2 separate regions of the Homo sapiens genome follow, and region 2 is linked to region 1. The links come from fine-mapping of genetic effects on gene expression. A gene starts in region 1. The other region holds a variant in brackets. All regions are shown on one strand. Distances are from middle to middle.

The links. PIP is the estimated chance that this variant, and not a neighbour inherited with it, causes the effect.
Region 2: its variant is fine-mapped to the expression of TP73 in whole blood (TOPMed, PIP above 0.99).

The regions. Positions count from the first base shown.
Region 1 is chr1:3,650,167-3,655,526 of GRCh38, forward strand. TP73 (tumor protein p73) reads left to right here and starts at 2,350. Exons shown (of 14, transcript NM_005427.4): 1 at 2,350-2,475. RefSeq lists an enhancer at 158-1,001 and a silencer at 1,961-2,910.
Region 2 is chr1:3,674,569-3,679,928 of GRCh38, forward strand. The region is part of intron 1 of TP73 (tumor protein p73); the gene reads left to right. Among named protein-coding and RNA genes, the nearest start is that of TP73-AS3, 8.3 kb to the left of the region's middle. The variant C/G (reference allele first, on the strand shown) is at 3,075.

The DNA of each region.
Region 1 (5,360 bases):
GTAGTTCTTGTGCCGCAGGGCTTTAAAGGAAACGCCCACGTTTCTTCCGACCAGGGATTTCCGACCCGAGAACCTTACCTCAAAGGCCGGGAGGCCTTTGAGCACCTCCAGCTAGGGCTGCTGATAAAAATGTAGAAAGCACAGTAAAATTTGAATTTCAGATTCACAACAAATCTAGTTATAAGTATGTTCCCAAATATTGCACGGGACATGCTAATACGGAAAAATTACTCGCTAGTCTGAAATTCAAATTTAATTGAGCGACCTGTGTGTCTGCGTGTGTGTACACATGCATATATATATATTTATATTTATATGTAAATGTATGTTTACATGTAAATATATGTTTACCTACAAATATATCTTTAATAAGTAATACGGTGTCTGTCGCACATATATTATATCGTGTATGTAATGTATAAGTATTTATTTCGTTTGCTTGGGGTTTTGTTTGCTTTTGCTGAGTCCGACCCCTCTACCTGCCGCCTGGCCCTTGCCTCACGCTCCAGTGCCACTGAGATCAAGGAGAGAACGAATTTGCCGCTGACTGGGCAGAGCGAGCGCGTGGATCGCGGCCACCGCCCGTTCATCACCCGCGCGCATCTGGGCTGGCACCGGGCGAAGAATCGTGCGGGTCTGGGACCTGGGGGCCCAGAGGGAGCGAGCTCCTGCGCGGGCGCTCGGTCCGCAGGTTTCGCAGGCTCAGGGGCGTGCCTCGTTCTCACCCCCACTCCGGACCCCGGTCCTCTTCCCTAGACAGCGGCCCCCTCCACCCCTGGCTCCCGCAGGCCGCTAGTAGTCCGCGCCAGGCCCCGCCGGCGCCTCTAGGGCCCCCCAGATCGCGCAGACCCTGACATCCCCGCCTGGCCCTGGGTTCTGGGAGCTGAGAGCCGGCCAGGGTCCTGCTCGTACCTCCGGGCGCCCAGCCTCGGGTCTGCTCCCCGCGGACGCCCCAACCTCCCCGGCCGAATGGATGGTGGTGCGCGCGCGTCCTACTCCGGCGGTGCCGGCCTTTTCTGTTGCCAAAACTAGACCCAAACCTCTGCATGGGATTCGTCTTTGGGTCCCCACCCCGTGCGCCCAGCAAACAGTGGGTGAGCCATGAAGATGTGCGAGTCAGCCGGACCCTCCCCGTCAGGCGCGGACCCGCTGCGGCCAGAGAACCCAGTCTGCGCCAGCCCGGCTCGCTCGCGAAGCCACGGGCTTCACTGACGCGACTTTCCAAGACGTGGGGGTCACCATGGGCAGAGGACATCGGTTCGGAGCCAGATCACGGGCCCCATAAGCATCAGACCATAAGCAGCGCCGCCACTGAGAGCCGCTCGGAACTCGCCCAGCATGTCGGGTCCCCTAGCCAGGGCCTGGTGTACGTGGTCGAGGGCCCTGGAAGCCCCGATGGCCTAGGAGGAGCAGGCGGGCGGGGCGGCGGGTGTCGCTGGCCGGTAGAGAGCTTCGGCCTGACCTAGCGCAGGTCTGGTGCGCGCAGAGAACAACTCCAAGCGCACCGACGCCCGCGAGCTCCTTCCAAACACCGAACGGGATCCAGAGCCCGAGCCCACAGGCGGCGGCCGGGGGAGGGAGCAGGGTGCTGGCCGCCGCCCGGGAGTGTTCGCGTCCTGGGTGACCCCTGGAAGGACGTGGGGCCCAAACTCCGGCTGGGGTTGGGAGAGCAGCCCCCAGAGGCTCTCCGCGGGATCCTCTGCCGGGCGGGACCGTGGCTCCACAGGAGAAGTGGGTGGCAAGCCCTGCTTGGCGGAAAGCAGCCGTTCCCCTCCTCCTGGGCCTGGGGCGGCGCCCCTCACCCCTGTTCCCCGCCCCTCACCCCTGTTCCCCGCCGGCCACATCCCCTGCCCCTTGGATTCCAAGCGCCCCGCGCGCCGAGGAGCCCAGCGCTAGTGGCGGCGGCCAGGAGAGACCCGGGTGTCAGGAAAGATGGGCCGTCTGGGGGACAGCAGGGAGTCCGGGGGAAACGCAGGCGTCGGGCACAGAGTCGGCACCGGCGTCCCCAGCTCTGCCGAAGATCGCGGTCGGGTCTGGCCCGCGGGAGGGGCCCTGGCGCCGGACCTGCTTCGGCCCTGCGTGGGCGGCCTCGCCGGGCTCTGCAGGAGCGACGCGCGCCAAAAGGCGGCGGGAAGGAGGCGGGGCAGAGCGCGCCCGGGACCCCGACTTGGACGCGGCCAGCTGGAGAGGCGGAGCGCCGGGAGGAGACCTTGGCCCCGCCGCGACTCGGTGGCCCGCGCTGCCTTCCCGCGCGCCGGGCTAAAAAGGCGCTAACGCCCGCGGCCGCCTACTCCCCGCGGCGCCTCCCCTCCCCGCGCCCATATAACCCGCCTAGGGGCCGGGCAGCCCGCCCTGCCTCCCCGCCCGCGCACCCGCCCGGAGGCTCGCGCGCCCGCGAAGGGGACGCAGCGAAACCGGGGCCCGCGCCAGGCCAGCCGGGACGGACGCCGATGCCCGGGGCTGCGACGGCTGCAGGTAGGAGGCCCAGGGCCGGGGGGCGGTTCGGCTCCGCGGGCGGGGGCTGGAGCGCAGCGCTGGGCAGGCACCTGGGCTCGCAGCTCCGAAGCTGGGAGGTGAGGGGAGAGCGATCGGGGACGAGCTGGGACAAGGCGACACAGGGGCTCCCTCGGAGTTGGATCGGCCCCTGGGACTTGGCGCTCGCGAGAGGCTGGAGCGGCCAGAGTCTAGCCTGCGAGGAGACGCGGGTCCTGCCCTCAGCGCCGGCCGCCTTTGGCGCCAAAGACAGCCCCGCAGGGGTTCCGGGAGGGCCCTCCTCCTGCTGTCCCCTCTCCACCCCGGGCTCCGAGGGCCGTTGGGAGGGTAACCCCGGGAAGAGGCCGGGGTGCGGGGCGCGGGTGCAGGTGGAAATCGCCAGCAAGCTCCTCCCCGCCCGCGCGCTCCCTCCGACCTGCAGGGCTGTGCCAATCCCGAGGCCTCAGCTTCCCTGAGGAGCCAGGGCCAGGCCCCCCTCTGGACAGGGAGAAGGATCTGGGCGGGGGCCTTGACCCATGGAGTTGGTTACTAAGCGGTTTCGATGGTTTCCCGAGGGACAGCTCCCTGTGGCTCTGAGTTTGTCTGTCGAGGGCTCCTGGCCTGTCTCCGGAGCGGTCCCAGGTAGAGAAAGCCCGTGAAGAAATGGCCCGGGCCGGCCTGGAGGGAGACACCTCACGCCCCCTTAGCTCCTGGGCCGCCTCCTCCTGCAGCCCCTGCCTTTCCCGGGGCTTGGACTTGGGGAGCGATGATTACCTTTGCTCAGCTTGTATTTTGGCCTGGACGCTAGGAGATAAGCCCATGTAGTATGCACACGTCTGCTACATAAACAGGGGACAGATAGACGATCTTCAACCAGCAAGGGTGCAGGGAAAAGCAATGCACCCCAAACTTCTGACCAGAGGTCATTTGCTTCCAAAGATGCTGCCATCTGTTTATTCACTGTCTGGACATTTGGAAATGGCTCAGGCTCATTAACACAATGCTTTGGTTTTTGTTGTTTTGTTTTTTGTTGCTGTCATTGCTGTTTATTTGTTCAGCCTTAGCTCTGGGGGAGGAGTAAACAAAGCGCGTGGCCTCTGGCACTTACTGAGCGCTGAGCCACCCCTCTTTGGATTTATTCGGGGAAAGATTAAAAAGCATTTCATTAAGAACAGGACACGGTGTTTGAAATGTTGCCATATATGAATGTATGCATTACGTATGTAGTTTTTAAAATAAGATAAAAAGTTGGCTGGGCACGGTAGCTCACGCCTGTCATCCCTCACAGCCTTTGGGAGGCCAAGGTGGGTGGATCACCTGAGGTCAGGAGTTCGAGACCAGCCTGGCCATCATGGTGAAACCCAGTCTCTACTTGAAATACAAAAATTAGCTGGGCATGGTGGCAGGCACCTGTACTCCCAGCTACTCGGGAGGCTGAGGCACAAGAATTGCTTGAACCTGGGATGGAGAGGTTGCAGCGAGCTGATATCATGCCACTGCACTCCAGCCTGGGCAACAGAGCAAGACTCTGTCTCAAAAAATAAGATGAAATAAGATAAAAGTTGGTGTCAGAGGCTGCAGTGTGGCAGCTGCCTATTGTCAATCAGAGGTAGCCTGGGGTGAACGGAAGGCGGACCTGAGCGGGGCTTGTCTATGCGCGGCGGCCACCAGAGAATGGCTCGGGATGTGAGCCCTGCCTTGCAGTCCTTCTCGTGAAAGCTACAGCGAACAGTAGCTGTCTCCAAATCCCGAAGGCCAGTCGCATGGAGAAGCTGGTCTGGCACAGTGGTTAATGGGGTAGTATGGAAGTCAGAATGCTGGGGTTCAAATCTCCTCTTCCCCATTTACTCCAGCAAGTCACTTAACCACTTGGAGCCTCAGGTTACCCATCTGCAGAGTCGGGTAATAGTAGTTCCTGCCTCAGAGGCTTGGAGAACAGTCAGTGAGGTGCCGTCCGAAGGGCTTGGGAGAGTGCCTGGCACCCACTCAGTGTCCTCACACATGATGGCTTCGGGTCCCAGGTGCTGTTCCAGAGCTGGGAGAGCCAGGAGCCCTGGGGAGAGACCCGGCTCCTTAGTATCTGGTAGGTATCTCCAGGGCAGGAGGGATGGCAGTGAGGCAGGCATCTGCCCAAGGCGTGGGTGGAAGCTGATGGCATCTGTCAGAAGTATGCACTGGGGCAAGGATGCCTGGTTTAGTATTTATTTATAGGGCATGCCCCACCCAGGTCCAAGAATGGATTGATAACACTGAGCACGTGTGAAAGGCACGGCTAAAGTGGAGAGAAGAGAAGAGGCTGAGGGCCGAGAGAGGAGCCGCACACCCACTCCAGAACCCGGACGAGGCCCTGCCCTTGCCCAGCGGCGGTATTAACCCTGAGATTCCGAGCACACCAAAGTGACATCGCGTACACGGTGAACCCTGTGTTTGCAAAAAGTCAGAAAAAGTCTTCAAAACATCCTTTAAGGCCAGGCGCCGTGGCCCACGCCTGTAATCTCAGCCCTTTGGGAGGCCGAGGTGGGTGGATCACTTGAGATCAGGAGTTCAAGACCAGCCTGGGCAAAATGGTGAAATCTTGTCCCCACCAAAAATACAAAAATTAGCCGGGGGTGGTGTCTGGTGCCTGTAGTCTCAGCTACTCAGGAGGCTGAGGCAGGAGAATCGCTTGAACTTGGGAGGCAGAGGTTGCAGTGAGCCGAGATCACCCCACTGCACTCCAGCCCGGGCAACAGAGCGAGACTCTGTCTCAAAAAAACACGCAAAAAATACTTTTGGTGTGTGTTTCATGTAACGAGCTGCCATTTTGCGGCTTGCCTTTGTTTTCCAGTGTGGGGAGGGCTAAGGCAACCTTTTAAGATATCTGTATGTTATTTCCTCGTGATTTTGCT
Region 2 (5,360 bases), 24 kb after region 1:
GGCCCCATCGTACCCACAGAGGGAGGCCACATGGTCCTTAGCCTCTGTCGGGAGGGGCAGGCAATGCTGGCAGAGGGCCTTGCCCCTGAGAGGGAGGCCCTCCTGGCCCTCACTCCGGGGGACCCCTGTCCTTGGCCCCAGCCTGCCAAGCGAGAGCGGCCCCTCTTCTTGCGGTGGCTGGAGGGGAGAGTGAGGCCCCTTGGCACAGAGGGCCCCAGGAGGCTGGGCTCTGATGACGCCCTGCAGGAATTCCGCTGGGCTGCTGCCTGGGAGAGCCGCTGTCTCACACAGGGCCAGCCTGCCTGGCTTCATTCTGGTGCGCTGACCGCCCGACCCCTCTGCCCAGGCGGGGGCTCTTCTGGGTTCTGGGTCCTGGGACCTGCCTGAGTCCCTGGGAAAAGGGCACAAGGGGATTGAGACGGTCTCCTCCCACAATGGCCCAGGTGTCTCCTCCCACAATGGCCCAGGTGTCTCCTCCCACAATGGCCCAGGTGTCTCCTCCCACAATGGCCCAGGTGTCTCCTCCCACAATGGCCCAGGTGTCTCCTCCCACAATGGCCCAGGTGTCTCCTCCCACAATGGCCCAGGTGTCTCCTCCCACAATGGCCCAGGTGTCTCCTCCCACAATGGCCCAGGTGTCTCCTCCCACAATGGCCCAGGTGTCTCCTCCCACAATGGCCCAGGTGTCTCCTCCCACAATGGCCCAGGTGTCTCCTCCCACAATGGCCCAGGTGTCTCCTCCCACAATGGCCCAGGTGTCTCCTCCCACAATGGCCCCAGGTTTCTTTGCCACTTCAGATTGGAATCGTTGATCTGCTGAAATAACAGGTAAAATCATTGGTGGTTTGGGAACCACCGGAATCAGAAGTGCATTGAGATGTTTGCTTTAGGGGTGGCCCGGGGCGGGTGGAGTTCCTGGGGGCTTTTCCCTCCTCCCTGAATGGAGGAGGACACCCTGCACCCCTCCTGTGATCCCCCTTAAGAGCCAGTGTCCGGGATGGCTGGGCCAGACGGGGCAGAGGGGCCTGTGTCTCCTGCCCAGGCTGAGTGCGGACGGCTCGGTCTCAGAGCTCCACCGAGGGGTGGGTAGGTAACAGCAGCCCTGCGGCCAGGGCCCCTGCAGGTGGGAGTGGGTGTCCCCATGGGGAGTGCCTCTTCCAGAGTGGGCTCAGTCGGGGTGGAGTGTCCTGGCTTATCAAAGGTGGTTGTGGAGCCCTGTCTGCCCCAGGCCTGGGCAGAGGTGGAAGGGGTTGGGGAACTGACGAGGCCTTACCTGTGGGCCCATGGCCAAGGAAATGTCTGGTCTCCCACCTCCTGTCAGGTGGTGAGGGGAGAGGATGGGGCGTCAGCCGGAGACGGGGTTCCTAGAGGAGGCTGGGTCCTGGCCTGGCCTGGAGAGATAGGGATGAGATGGGAGGGCAGGAAGGGGGTGGTAGACAAAGGCTGAACACAGAGAGCACATAGCCAGGCATGTGGGGACTGGGGACAGGGGACAAGGAGGGCACCCATGGGGACAAGAGATAGGGAGAGGACAGAGGGACAGGAGACGGGGAGGGACAGAGGATGGGGGACAAGGAGGGGACAGGAGGACGGGGACAGGGAGGGGACACAGAAACAGGAGCTAGGACGGGGACAGAGGATGGGAGAAGGAGAGGTCAAAGGGACAGGGAACAGGGAGGGGACCCATGGGGATAGGGCAGGGATCTATGGGGACAAGGGACAGGGAGGGGACAGAGAAACAGGAGATGGGGAGGGGACAGAGGGATGCAGACAGGGAGGGGATAGAAGATGGGGGGCTAGGGGACAAAGGGAAAGGGGACAGGGAAGGAACCTATGGGGGACAGGGAGACAGGGGGACAGGGAGAGGACAGAGGAACAGGGGACAGGGAGGGGATGCTTGGGGACAGGGAGGGAATGCTTGGGACAGGGCAGGGGGACAGGGGGCTGTGGCTTTCGTGGGAAGCTATGGAAGACGAGGCCAGAGGGGTTGGGCAGGGTGAGATGAGAGAGGCTGAGAGCCCCTCACCGGCTGCGGACTCCTCCCCACAGGGCAGAGGGGAGCATTCGGGTGCGGCCAGGCCATCAGAGGACCTGGGCTTGGCTGGAGTCCCAGCTCCTCAGCCCTCAGTAGCTTTGGGCCAGCCACTGGGCCTCCTGGCCTCCACTTGCTCATCTCTGAACTGGGGCAGGGTTGGCGTGTGAGCCTGAGGCCCTGCAAAGTGCCTGGCCAGCCTCAGCTCGGAGCCATGGCACAGCACCCCCTCTCCGCCACGGCCCCGACAGCTGGGCGTGCGTTCTGCTGTGGGCAGCTGCCCTGAGCAACGTAGGGTGCTAAGCAGCATCCCTGTCTTGCACACTAGATTCCACAGCACCCTCTGACCCCGTGGAAAATGTCCCCACATGGGAATATCCTCTGGGGGTGGAACTGCCCCTGGTGAGAACCCCTAGGCTGAGACCTCAGAAGGCCCTGAGTCAAACCGAGAAGTCATCAGAGAGCCTTGTTTTCAGCTCCAGGGAGCTTGGGCAGGCTGGTTTTCTGGGCCACACAGTCCCCTCCCCAGCCCACCTGTGCTCCGTGGGTCCCGGGGAAGCTGTGGGGGCCTAATTGCTGGTGTGAGTTCCTTTCCTGTTCTGAGTCACACGTGTGTGGGGGCTCTCCCTGTGGTGCAGCTGGTACAGCGGCCCCTGGAGTTGAGGATCCAAGCAGGCTGAGGTCTGGGTTTGCCGGAGGGCCCTCGGTGGCTGGTCTTTGTCCTGCTCCCACTGCTGTGGGCACTGTAGGACTTGGAACGCTGGTCACCTTTCCAGCCTGGCAAAGGGAGGGGACTTGTCTGAGGCCTCATGGAAGTTGGGGCAGGGTCGAGGTGCCCTGCTTCCTGGGTGTGCCAGCAGCCTACAGCCTGGCTACAGCGTAACCAGGAACACCCAGCACAACTGTCCTTTGCAACTCTGTGCCCTGACTTGATGGTGCCAGGGCTGGGGGGGTGCCGGCCAGCAGCTCCCCAATGACCACCCCCAAATGCTGTGGCCACACAAAGCCTTCCACTGCAAGACCTGTGGTAATACACACTGGA[C/G]GCCCCTGTTACAACTGAGAACTCATTTATTTCATTTCCTTCCTTCCCTTTTTTTTTTTTTTTTTTTTAGAGTTGTGGTCTAGCTCTGTTGCCCAGACTGGAGTGCAGTGGTGCAATCATGGCTCACTGCAGCCTCGAGCCCCTGGGCTCAAGTGATTCTCCCACCTCAGCACCCTGCGTGGTTTGGACTGCAGGCACATGCCATCACGCCCTCATGCCCAGCTAATATTTTTTTAAGTTTTTGGAGAGCTGAGGTCTCCCTGTGTTGCCCAGGCTGGTCTCAAGCCCTTGGGCTCAAGTAATCCTCCCTCCTTGGCCTCCTAAAGTGTTGGGATTACAGTTATGAACCACTGCACCCAGCCCATCCCTCCTAGACTAAATCTTCTTAGAAAAACCTACACTTCCAATAATGTATTTGCATTTTATGATGTTGATAAAACTTCCTAAAGATGTCTTATGAAATTGGTCTCCTTTCCCCATTGATACACATGATTTTTAAAACTATTGGCAACGTTTCAAAAGCAATTTCTGTTTTGTCCCAGAACCGTGATCCCCTTGTGAACGAATTTTCAAATTAAAAGGCAAATGGTTGGGAAAATTGGATTTAATTGAAAGGCCATTTTATTAGAATTGACTTATTTTTCTCGCCACTGGGATCCTTGCCTGAAAGGCGGCTGTGGGCAGAGGGCACATACTCCCCCTGCCCCAGCGCAGCGTCCCTGCACCCCCAACAGAGCTTCCTGTTCCTCATGCCCAGTACTCCCAGATGCCTGCGGAGCCAGTCATCAGCTCAGGTGTGTGAGGCCGGTTGGGGGAGCCCCTGCCTGGCGCCTGTGCCTGTGAGCAGTGTTCCTGTGGGGCCCTGGGACCAATGCTACCAGCGTTGGCGTTTTCCCAGGAAGTTGGGAATCAGGCATCTCGTGGCTTCCGGTTCAAGTTCCTCCGTGTGCTTTAAGTCTGGGCAGGTTTCCGGGTCCTGGTTTTGGCTAATGAGGAACCCGATTCCCATGGGGGAGGCCGGTGGCTGCAGCAGGGCCCCGAGCAGTGGCAAGGCTGGCCCTCATGACAGTGTCCTCCTCAGGGGGCCTGTCCCAGGCTCTTCATGACTCCCCTGGAGGCTTGTTAAAGGGGCAGATTCCTGGGCCCTGCCCCAGCCCCACTGTGGGGAGGGGTGTCCTGGAAGATGCATCTGCCCAGGGCTTCCGGCTGGTCCACACGCCTGCACCTGGAGGCCCACTGCCCACATCTCAGGCAAACAGGCCTGGGGATGTTTGGGGACCCAACTCCTGGCGTGGAGGAAGCCCCTTTCCCACCCCACATGCTCCTGGTGGTGGCCTGTCCTGTGAGCCTGGAGGGCCGGACGGGTGGGATCGGGGACCCACGACCACGCTCGCTGGCCTCTGTCCTGTGCCCAGGCAGGGATGAGAGGCCAAGCTGGTGTCCTGCAGTGCACAGTGGGTGCCGGTCAGGGGATGTGGAAGCTGGGTCTCCGGCAGGCAGAGGCGCGCTGACAAGAAGGGTCGCTGTTCCTCATTCAGGGTTCAGTGGGAAGAGAGGGTGTCGCTTCAGGGGGAGTTCACAGGATGCCGACTTGAAAATACAGCCAACGCCCATGTCCCAGGCATAAGATCACAAATCATGTTTTGCCGACCAGTTCCTGTGAGCCCTGAGCCCTGCGCGGAGGGATGCCCCGTGCACACCTGTTCACGGAACCCCTGGACCTCCAGTAGGGGTGCGGCGGGATGCCGTCGGCTCCCACGCTGTCTGTCTCCCTGTCCCTCTCTCTTTCCCTCTGTTTCTCTGTCTGTCTCTGTCTGTCTCTGTCTCCCTGTCTCTCTCCATCTCTCTCTGTCTCTCTCCCTGTCTCTCTGTCTCTGTCTCTCTCCATCTCTCTGTCTCTCTTTGTCCTTGTCTCTCCCTGTCTCTGTCTCTCTCACTCTCTGTCTCTCTTTGTCCTTGTCTCTCTGTTTTGTCTCTCTTTGTCCCTGTCTCTCTGTCTCTGTCTCTCTCTCTCTTTGTCCTTGTATCTCTCTGTCTCTCTTTGTCCCTGTCTCTCTCTGCCTTTGTCTCTCTCCGTCTCTCTTTGTCCCTGTCTCTCTCTGCCTTTGTCTCTCTCCGTCTCTCTTTGTCCTTGTCTCTCTGTTTTGTCTCTCTTTGTCCCTGTCTCTCTGTCTCTGTCTCTGTCTCTCTTTGTCCTTGTATCTCTCTGTCTCTCTTTGTCCCTGTCTCTCTCTGCCTTTGTCTCTCTCCGTCTCTCTGTCTCTCTTCCTGTCTCTCTCTATCTCT